Linked DNA regions of Homo sapiens. The protein of the gene in region 2 purifies or fractionates together with the protein of the main gene of each other region. This does not show direct contact. Each region holds a gene or a part of one and is shown on either strand. Other genes may lie near its edges. The genes, in order: ZNF593, FGF3 and ANKHD1-EIF4EBP3.

Region 1 (3,121 bases), on a different chromosome or scaffold from region 2:
TGGCACCCACCTCCTCTGCCAGGTCTTCTTCAGATTCCCCACTCAGGGTCTGTAGCACTTTGGACTTGTAGGTTTTCCAGAAGGCCTGGTTCATGGCTGCAGGGGGAAGGGGCCTGGCACGCAAGCACAGGAAGGTGGTGGCTCAGTGGATACCAGTGAGTCTGGCTCTAGGAACTTGGTGAGGCCAAGAGCCTGTCCGAGGGATCCAGTGACTTCATTAAAGATGCACCAGCCTCCCCAGCTGGCACAGTGCCCAGGAGGTGAACCTGATCCAAAGGAGTCGGGGAGTGGGGGATGGAACAAGCTTCTGCCACCTTAGCCCCTTGTCTTGACCCATATTGGCCAAGAATAATGAAGTCATTTGTCTCTAGAGAGGCTTTCTTCCTGGGCCTAGGAGTACTTGAGTTGTTCATCTCTTAGCATGCCTCCAGGAAAATCTTCTTCCATTCACAAAATCCTGAGGTCTGGGACCCACACTGGAGCCCCTGTGACTGTAGTCATACTAGTTGTGTCCTCAGCAGGGCTCCACCCTGTGTCCCTACTTAGCCTCAATGAACTGGAGCAGGAAGGTCCGCAGGCCCCCAGTGGGCACCTTGGGCTTACATTTCACTCCTTTGTCTGGGCTGGAAACTGATTCCTCTCCCCAGGGATACACGTGCCTGTCTCCTTGTTTCCTGGCAACAGACTCCAAAGAGCTGGAGCCCCTGAATTATTGCTAAGCTCCTCTGGCCCCTTCCAGCTGAGTTGGCTCTGGCCAGCCTGGGAGGCACCAGGCTCCTGTGAATGGGGAAAGGCCCTCTAGCCACTCTGAGCATGCAACACCTAGGCCTTTGCTGCCAGCCCACCTCTGGGAGCCCAGGGCTTAGAGAAAGGAGGCAAAGATGGAGAGGTCCTTCTATGAGTACTTGTGAGAGGAACTGATCCCTCTGGAGTCTGGATGCCTGAGGACTGCACTCTCTGGGGAGGAACACCCTTCACGGATTTGGTTGGGGTCAGAGAGAGGATGGAGACTCAAGGGAATAACGGGAGCCCGGAGAAGTGAGGGCTTTTTCAGGGACTGGAGATTATCTCGGGAAGCCCTGGTGGGGCTGGGATTCCAAACTTATTCACTCTCAGTCATTTACTAATTTATTCATGACACAGACATTTATCAGTGCTTTCCAGAGATAAAGCATCCCACCCCCACCGCGGAGTCCAAGGTCTGGGAAACAGGAAGGGATGACAGGAGTACAGGTTGGCACTGATACTGGTTGGACCAGGCCAGGAAGAGCAGGGCAGCAAGACGGCCCCGAAACCCCCAGGCGCACGCACCACCCCGCGCCTCCCCAGCGAGGGCCCGCGGGGCCATGCCCTTCAGTGGGCACACTTCTGGGAGCCCGTCCTGAGCTCGGTCACTGACGTCGACGGCCGCCTGGCGGCGCTCGAGCCGCTGGCCGAGAGTGACGTCATCAGAGGCGGTCCGGCCGAGCCTGCCTAGCCCCCCGGCGTGGCCTGACGTAGCTGATCGGCCCGGAAGTGCTCACACGTGTGCTCCCTGCCCTGCTCCTGGCCCCTTGGCCGGCCGGGCTGTTTCTGGCCATGGGTCGCTCCCGCCGGACAGGCGCGCACCGAGCGCACTCTCTAGCCCGGCAGATGAAGGCGAAGCGGCGGCGGCCGGACTTGGATGAGATTCACCGCGAGCTGCGGCCTCAGGGATCCGCACGACCCCAGCCCGACCCAAACGCCGAGTTCGACCCCGACCTGCCAGGGGGCGGTCTGCACCGCTGTCTGGCCTGCGCGTGAGTCCCGGACGAGCCCGGCCTGGGGCGGAGGAGGGTCCGCGGTACCGGCCGGGAGATGTGAAGTTGAAGCCCCAGGCAGCGCAGAGTCTTCTCTCTTGGGACCCGTGGGTCCGCCCGCCTCCCGTTTCTCAGACCCGGATCCTGGCGTCAGGGACAAGCTAGGGCTAGGGAGATAGGTGCACTTGGGAGACTATCACCTCCTCACTCTCCTTCTCACTTCCATTCCTACAGGAGGTACTTCATCGATTCCACCAACCTGAAGACCCACTTCCGATCCAAAGACCACAAGAAAAGGTATGAAGGAGTAAGGAGAGGATTGATGGATGGGTGCTCAGCAGATAGGGCTCTCACCTGGTCAGCTCCCAACTCCTGTTTTTCTTTCTCCCAGGCTGAAGCAGCTGAGCGTCGAGCCCTACAGTCAGGAAGAGGCGGAGAGGGCAGCGGGTATGGGATCCTATGTGCCCCCCAGGCGGCTGGCAGTGCCCACGGAAGTGTCCACTGAGGTCCCTGAGATGGATACCTCTACCTGACATGGCCTGAAGATGCAGGGCAGAGGAATTGCCCATGGACAGTGACGCAAGGACTAGGCTGGGAGGGAGCGTGCCAACCCCTTTTGCCTCTGGGTTTGGGGAGCGGAGGGCCTCTTCTTGGTGCCCTGCCCCAAATAAAGGAACTGGACAAAGAGAACTTGCCTCCAACTCTAACTTCCAGGCCGCTGTCTCAAACTCCTGCCCTGGAAGGGCTTCTCTACTACTTTCTGTACACCAGGCCTAGGGTGTCTACTCCCCACTTGGTCTATCTCTGCCTTCCCTCTGAGGTCCTAGCATCTGAACTGGAGCACCCAGATGGAGGCCTGATGCAGTGTGGGGTGGCGGGAGTGGGATCAGATTACTCTGTCCTGCTTCTGACAGAGACTGATCCCCAGAAAAGAAGGCTTCTGAGATTGCACCCCCCTCCCGAGTCACCTACCCCCAGCATCCAAGTGAGAGTCTCTCTTCTTCGTTACGGGGCCCGTGGCACCCGCCGCTGCCCCACCATCTTCCAGACGGCATAGCAGGAGCCACCCAGGCCGAGGACAGCTAGCACTGTAGCCACAACTCCTGCCAGCAGACTCCGGGGCTCTGCCTTCAGCTCACCAGCTACCTGCATCTGGAGGTGCACAGAGGGTGTGCCTCAGGGGTCAGTTGAGACTGCCAGGAAGGTGGGGAGTGGGAAAGGGCTGAGTAGATGTAGCTAGGGGAAGGAGACATGGACGCCGGTCCTGCCCCAGGGAGATTCCACCCCAATCCCTTTCGCCTCACTGCCCATCTGGGCCTGCCTGCTCAGGCGGCAGGGAACGT
Region 2 (3,755 bases):
CACCGGGCTTTTGCTCCAGCCCAGGGGTGCTGTGGTGCAGGCTGCGAGCCTCCCGCCTTCCCAGTGCGCAGGCTGGGCGGCATCGGCGGTGCCTGACCGGGGACCAGCGAAGCACGAGTCTCGACGCAGGACAGGGGCGGCTGCGGGCGCGCGCCCTCCCCTCCCCGTGAGCAGCCTACACCAAGAAGTTTGGATGCTGTGCGACTCCGAGGGGGAGCCTGGCTTTGGAGAGAACCGGAGTGTCTTAGTGAGACGAATTCCGCGCACTCGGACCCCCTGGTGACAGCTGGTGCCCACCGTGCGGCTCCGGAGGCGCATGTCCCCAGGACGCCCTCTCAGGGCTGCGGCTTTCCTGGAGGAAGCCGCGGTTTGCTGAGGCCGCCGCCGCCACCTTCAAGCGGCGGAACCGCTTCCTGCGCCCGGGGCCGGAGCCGAGCGCCGCGCGGAGCACCCGAGGACAGCTGTGGTCTTGACTGCCCTCCCACGCTCCCCACGCGGTCCTCCCGGGCCCTGAGCTCCGCTATCCTGCTCCTCAAAGGGCTCGGCGCGGGCCTCAGGTCCCTGTGACCAGAGGAGCCCAACCGTGTAGTCCGGCAGACTCCCGCGGTGAGCGCAGCCCGGGCCGCGGGTCCTGCGTGCGGGGGCCGGAGTGTGTGTGTCTGCACCCCCAGGCCCGGGCGGACACCGTTCCGCGCTCGTGATCCGCACGTCCCGACGGCGAGGGCCTCCACCCTCCTGTCGCTGTGCGGCCAGGGCGGAGGCGGGGGAGGTGCAGATTCCAGCGCGGGGAATAACTGTCGGTGGCGGCCGCGGCCAGGGAACCGAGCTCCGCAGGGCAAGAGTCCTCCGCGCAGAGGCAGCAGCGGGGGCGGCCACCTGGGCAGCCGCGAGCGGGGAGGGCGGAGGGGACGGCGGGGCGTCCAGGGGTCGGCAGGAGGAGGAGAAGTCGTCAAAATAATAAAGAGGATGATAAATGCCTTGTCCGGCTCCTTTTCTCCGACACATTCAAAGGGCTTAAACTTGTCAGAGCTGCCCAAAGCAGCAGAGCCTGGAGCCCCGGGGTCGCCTAGCTCGCGTCCCCTCAGACCAGCGGGCCGGACCGGGGACGGACTCTGACAGCCGCCGGCGCCCTCTTCGGACGTGAACGCCCATGCCCCCGAGTTCTGCTCGAACCCCAGCGCGCGCTCTTCTCCCGGACGTGTAGGTTGAGGAGGGCACCCTGGCATTCCCCTTCTGGCAGCGGGAGGCAGACGGTCTTTTCCCGGACACCCCGGGCGCACCATGCCTTCTCCCGGGCCAGACCCCTCCCCGGCGCCGCCTCCCCCGCGGGGCCCCGCAGCGCGCCTTCTCCCGGGCCCGACCCCTCCCGGCGCCGCTTCCCCCGGGGCCCCGCAGCGTCCGGCACTCACTGTAGGCGCTGTTCTCCAGGCTGCCGTTGACGCGGCCGCTCGGGTGCAGCTGGAGGTGGTACTTCGTGGCGCAGTAGAGCTTGCGGCGCCGGGGCGCCCCGCCAAGGTGCTCGTAGACGCCGCCACGGCCGCCCGCATCGCGCCGCAACCGCGCCCCAGGGCCCGCTGCGGGCCAGCCGGGCTCCAGCAGGCTGAGCAGTAGCAGCCAGATTAGGCCCATCGTGGCATCGCGCCCGCCCCGCGGCGGCGGCGGCTGCAGGCGAGCGCGGCGCCCATGGAAGGGGCGGCAGCCGGACAGCTGCGAGGTGCTCGGAGCGGGATCCCGCGCCTGGAGATGCTGACTCCGGCTTCGCGGGAAAGGTGGGGGAAGAAGGGGGAAGGGTGGGCGAGAGAGAGAAAGAGAGGGAGAGTGGGAGAGGGAGAGGGAGAGAGGGAACGCGAGTCCCTTTAATTTCCACCCAGGAGCAATGAAATTTCCGTTGCTGCGCAAAGCGCTGAAAGAAAGGACGGTTCGCCAACAAAAGGCCGACGTGGTCCCCAGGCGGAGGCGCGGGAGGGGCGGGAGGCCGGCGGGTGGGGAGCCCCGCGGGGCTCGGGGTTCGGGCCGGGCGCCGTCTGCATACACTCGCCGCCAGCGCACCGCCGTCGAGCCGCGGCTCCGCTCCGCAGCGCGCCCCACGCCCCCGAAAGCCCTCCTGGCTCTGAAAGGTCCCCTACCCGCCCCTCCCCCGCCCCCTCCCCCAGACCAATTATGCCTCCGAAAATTATAGACCGAGGCCTTGAGGAGGCCGCCCCAGGCCCTGTCACCCCCTCCCGCTCCCCATCAATCCCCCTGCACAATGGGGCCGCCGCCGATGACTGATGTCCGTGAAAACAACTTGCGGGGAAGTCGAGCTGACAAACGCCCATTAAAGGCGGCGCATAATGAAGGGGACCGCGGAGGGCGGCGGCAGGGAGGCTCCGGGGCGCGGGCACGCGTGGGGAGCTCCGGGTTTGTGTCTGCGCCCGGCGCTTCCTGCAGGAGCAGTGGCGCTGTCCTCAGCCTTGCAAGGCGCGGGGCAGGCCGGGTCTGGAGATGCTATCTCCTTTTGCGCACACCAACTGGGCACCCGGAGTGGTGGGGTTAGCTCTCGTCTGGCAGGCCTCGGAGGATCCCGTCCCAGTGACGGTCCAGAGAGGGGCCTGGGGAGGCGGGAGGAGGGACGCGAGAGCCAGAGAAGTGGGCGCCGACAGAGAGCCCTAGAGAGAAAGAGATGCAGATAGAGACAGACAGAAACGGAGGAGGAAAGGACGGGAAAGACATGGAAAATGTGAATGACAGAGATCGCCAAAAAGAGGAGGCAGGGGAGATGGAAAGAAGACAGAGCCGCGGAGAACACCCAGAGAAAAGCACAGGGAGTCTGGTAGCCACAGCGGGTGGGTGATGACAAGAGGAACCCGGTAGAAGCTGGGAATGGGTGTGGGGGAGTCCTGGCCTGGAGGATCTGAATCAGTGCAGATGCCCAGGTGGTCCCCTGGACTGTGTGGGGGTCAAGGTGTATCTCAGGGGGCCCAGTGAAGAGGGGCTTCAAAAAGTATCGGGAAAAGCCATGTCCCCACCCATTTCTCTTGCTTCCTGGTCCTCTGTCCCCCAGGGTCCTGGGGCCAGCAGGAAGCAGGGGCCAGCACAGGGGATTTGCTTCTCTCAACCCTGCCCCAGAGGAGGGCACGCTGTGGAGTCCAGGGGTCTAGGCCACAGCTTTGGCTCCAAGTTGACCAGGGGCTCTGGGGTGAGTTGGGTGGGCTGACATTCCCCAGCCTGCCATCTGCATCAGGGTTTGGGGTCAGGCAAGTGTGCAGGGCACCATGAGCTGTGGCAGTGAGCACACACCCCTGGGACGTGTCCAGCTCCCATGGCCCAATACACACAGGGCAGTGTGTCCTCTGTGAGCCCACTCCAGCGTGCACAGGGTCCAGGTGGCCATCCTGAAGGAGGGCGCCCCCAAGCCATCCCCGAGCACCTCAGTCTTAGTCAGGGTCTCCTAGCCGCTGCCCCAGGGCCAGCTTGTGAGAGTCCTTGAACAGGCCAGAGGCCAGCCACTGAACTACTGGAGCCTCAGACTCTTGATGGAGACTGTGTTACAGGGGTCAGAGGCTGGTGACAGGAAAGCCCCAAAGGACAGCAGCAAGAGGAGAGCTTGTCCAGTGCAGCCCTGTGCAGGCCTGGGCTGGGATGTGTGGTCACCTGGGCTCCCTAAGAGGCATGGAAGAGGCACAGGAAGGAGGTCGCTGCTCTAAATGCCTTAGCTCTGCTACCTCCTGACACCTGGCCAAGAAGAGAGGAGATGTAGTGGCGGGGGTGGGGGG
Region 3 (3,633 bases), on a different chromosome or scaffold from region 2:
CAACAGCTCATACTTAGCAATAAAAAATAAAGCCTCAGGTCAATGATGAGCTGACATGTATTCTGAATCTAAAGTTGATTATTAGTACTTTAGTTCTAGAATTACTGAGACATGAGAAAGAAAAAAAGCAAGAGAAAGCCTTTACATTTGAACTACATAAAAAGCAACTGAGGTTATCCAAAAAAGCCAAAATTTCTTGTGTCATATAAAATATGCATGCAAAATTTACATACTGCTTCTAATTTTGCTTTAGCATATTCTGGATTTAGTGTGGCAATGCAGTTTAAAATAATAACCACATTCAAATTATTCATTAATTAACTAGGTAGCCATCTCACATGAGAAAGGGAAAATATATGAAAGCTAAAAAGATGGAACTAATTCTATTTACCTTCGTACAACTTCTTTCCACCCTTCTTCTCTTTTCTGACCCCTTTTAGGGCTAGTGAGATTCAGCTTTATGTTTGGAGAGCTTAATGGCAATGACACTGTCTTGTAGCTGGTTGACAAGGAATTAGGAGTCACTTCACCTTCAAGTCTAAGAAGAGACAAATAGCAAGTACAATAAAAGATAAGTTTTAAGATAGAAACTCAAGAGACTATTCCTTTATAGCCAGAGTTACGCTGAAATATTCGTATTAAACTTTGGCACATCAAATAATCAATGAGTCAGAAAAACAGAAATAGAGCAAAGAACCCATCATTTATTTTAGTATTAAAATGGATTCAGATGCCAAAAATTAGACTATAATCAATAAAAATGACATAGATAAAATCAAAGCATGCAAATATTTTCAACTTCAGACTATGAATCCTATAAAAATTTCTAATAATCTCATTTCCTAACTAGCAAATGATAAAGAGGACATGGGTGAATTTCAGTTTTGAATATTGAAGATAGATAATGTGGTAGACTTCAATTGTTTAACACAACTTGTACTTGGATTAATATACTTCAAATTCTTGTACCAGGCATGAAGAAGGAAAGGTGCAGGTAGAGTTAACAAATCAGAAAAATTTACCGTGTCTGAGTTTTGGAAGTAGCAGTACTTGTCTTTTCTTCTTGGGAATGAAGGAGCAGTGAGGGGTATTTAGAGGAATTCACATCCATCACAAAATTTAACTCTTGGCTTTTACCACCACTGCTACTCTCACTGTTGCAGTCTGTGCTGTCCAAGTTATCTGAATCACTATTCCCACCTGCACCACCACCTCTAGGTTCTCCATTTATTTTATTTTTATCTGCCTTTTGTTGGGCTAAAGACATATGTTGTTCTGGTAAAATTAAATGTGCTGTAGGAGGGGTTTCTTTTGTTTTGTTCTTCTTATTTTTCCGATTGGTGCTGGGAGTTGTCACCACATTGGCCCTTTTTTTCCCAAACACATTTGTGAATGTTGCAGATGTTGCAGAGATTCCAATCGTAGTGGTGGTGGTTGCACTAGGAGGTTCTATGGGAACTTCTTGCTCCACTGAAATTGTTAAAAAGAATAAAAATCATACTGAGTCACAGATCTCAAAACAAATTCTGACAGAATATATTTGATAATTCATAATAATTCAGTGTTTTACATCATATTTTCCTTTCACCAGTATTCACTAAGAAATAAAGAAATCTTTTTTTTTTTTTTTTAGATGGAGTCTTGCTCTGTCGCCTAGGCTGGAATGCAGTGGTGCGATATTGGCTCACTGCAACCTCTGCCTCCTGGGTAGCTGGGACTACAGGCATGTGCCACCATGCCCGGCTAATTTTTGTACTTTTAGTAGAGACAGGGTTTCACCATGTTGGCCAGGCTGATCTCAAACTCCTGACCTCAAGATCCACCCGCCTCGGCCTCCCAAAGTGCGGGATTACAGGTGTGAGCCACTGCGCCCAGCTGAAATAAAGAAATCTTTTACTGTGGCCAGGTGCAGTGGCTCATGCCTGTAATTTCAGCACTGTGGGAGGCCAAGGCAGGTGGATTGATTACTTGAGCTCAAGAGTTCAAGATCTCCTGGGCAACATGGCGAAATCTTGTCTCTACAAAAAATACAAAAATTAGCTGGGGATGGTGGTGCATACCTGTGGTCCCTGCTACTGGGGAGGCTGGGGTGGGCGGATCACCTGAACCTGGGGGGCAGAGGTTGCAGTGAGCCGAGATTGCACCACTGCACTCCAGCCTGGGTGGCAGAGGGAGACCTCATCTCAAAAAAACACACAAAAAAAATCTTTGCTCTTGTTAGCCTAATAAATATTTACTATTATTTGTTGTTAGAACAAATATAAAATATATTTTCTTGTCTAAGGTGGTATAGGACACACATACTAGCAACATTCTTAATATTCTTTTTTTTCTTTTTATTTTTTTTTTGAGACAGAGTTTTGCTCCTGTCACCCAGGCTGGAGTGCAATGGCGTGAACTCGGCTCACCACCTCCGCCTCCCAGGTTCAAGCAATTCTCCTGCCTCAGCCTCCTGAGTAGGTGGGATTATAGGCATGTGCCACCACGCCTGTAATCCCAGGCTAATTTTGTAATTTTTTTTTTTTTTTAAGTAGAGACGGGGTTTCACCATATTGGTCAGGCTGGTCTCAAACTCCTGACCTCGTGATCCGCTCTCGGCCTCCCAAAGTGCTGGGATTACAGGTGTGAGCCATTGCACCCGGCCCAATATTCTTAATATTCTTAATTCTAGTCTCATGAACCCAAACCACAATATAATTTGAATTTAGGACATTTTTCAAATAGTATTTTAGAATTAGAATCCAAGTAGAACAAAATTATTTGCCTACTACAAGCACTGCCAGACAGTACAATAAATAACTCTTTGAGAGTACTAAACCCATCTCTACTGACATTTCAGGCCTCTATATCCTTGAGCCTGAATCTCAGCTAAAAGTAAACTGAGAAATTTTACTTCTAATCAGGAGAGGAAGAGTTAGAGAAGAATCTCAAAAAAAGGTGGCAAACTTCTCACTGTATTGCTTTTAGTATATATGCAGTGTTTTACAAGGTGACTTAAATTACAACTGAATTTATTCAAATTATGCGCTTGTTTTCCCTCTTGTTTCTCTGCATTAATTTACAATGCAAAACACTTACAAATATTTACTATAAAAGTCATTGTCCATTTCAGATTAATAAAGTAATCAAATGTTTAACTAGAGTTAACTAGAGCAAAGAGCACTCAAAATGAAGTTGATAAACAAAGGAGAATTTTATCGTTAATTCAGATGGTTTGTTTCTCACCATCTTCATCATTCTCCTCTTCATCTTCATCCTCTGGTAGTTCCGAATTCTCCTTAGGTTTGTTTTCTTCATCTTCTTCCTGTTTCCTTTTCTGTTCCTCTTTTTTCTTTTTTCTCTTTTCTTTTCTTTTTTCTCTTTTAGCAGCAAGAGCCTGCTTTCTGCTCTCTTCTCTTGACTGGAAATAAAGCAGGTATATAATTTTACCAATAAGGCAGTAATGTAAAATAAAGAATGAAATGATATTTTTATGATACACAGGGATTTCCATGGATGTTACTCTCAAAACACATTTATAAATGCCAACAAGAAAAAATAAACTGGACACCATCAAAATTAAAAACTTTTATACTTCAAAGGAATCATCAAGAAAGTAAAAAATCAGCTGGGCGTGGTGGCTCACACCTATAA

The links.
Region 1: the proteins of FGF3 (region 2) and ZNF593 purify together in Homo sapiens (affinity purification with mass spectrometry; 2 studies listed by BioGRID and IntAct, with this or other methods). This does not show direct contact.
Region 3: the proteins of FGF3 (region 2) and ANKHD1-EIF4EBP3 purify together in Homo sapiens (affinity purification with mass spectrometry, with the first as the bait; 2 studies listed by BioGRID). This does not show direct contact.

Annotation. Positions count from the first base shown.
Region 1 is NC_000001.11:26,168,406-26,171,526, forward strand, and holds ZNF593 (zinc finger protein 593), read left to right. Parts: upstream 1-1,502; 5' UTR 1,503-1,578; coding exon 1,579-1,778; exon of another isoform or gene 1,779-2,012; coding exon 2,013-2,075; exon of another isoform or gene 2,076-2,169; coding exon 2,170-2,311; 3' UTR 2,312-2,468; downstream 2,469-3,121. Other genes in the region: uncharacterized protein C1orf232, read right to left, coding at 11-94; transmembrane protein ZNF593OS, read right to left, coding at 2,784-2,930. UniProt on the Homo sapiens protein: Involved in pre-60S ribosomal particles maturation by promoting the nuclear export of the 60S ribosome. Negatively modulates the DNA binding activity of Oct-2 and therefore its transcriptional regulatory activity.
Region 2 is NC_000011.10:69,817,305-69,821,059, forward strand, and holds the start of FGF3 (fibroblast growth factor 3 precursor), read right to left. Parts: upstream 2,113-3,755; 5' UTR 1,630-2,112; coding exon 1,410-1,629; exon of another isoform or gene 1,404-1,409; intron 1-1,403. UniProt on the Homo sapiens protein: Plays an important role in the regulation of embryonic development, cell proliferation, and cell differentiation. Required for normal ear development.
Region 3 is NC_000005.10:140,523,833-140,527,465, reverse strand, and holds part of ANKHD1-EIF4EBP3 (ANKHD1-EIF4EBP3 protein), read right to left. Parts: intron 3,401-3,633; coding exon 3,226-3,400; intron 1,471-3,225; coding exon 1,023-1,470; intron 539-1,022; coding exon 392-538; intron 115-391; exon of another isoform or gene 38-114; intron 1-37. Other genes in the region: ANKHD1 (ankyrin repeat and KH domain-containing protein 1), read right to left, coding at 392-538, 1,023-1,470, 3,226-3,400. UniProt on the Homo sapiens protein: May play a role as a scaffolding protein that may be associated with the abnormal phenotype of leukemia cells. Isoform 2 may possess an antiapoptotic effect and protect cells during normal cell survival through its regulation of caspases.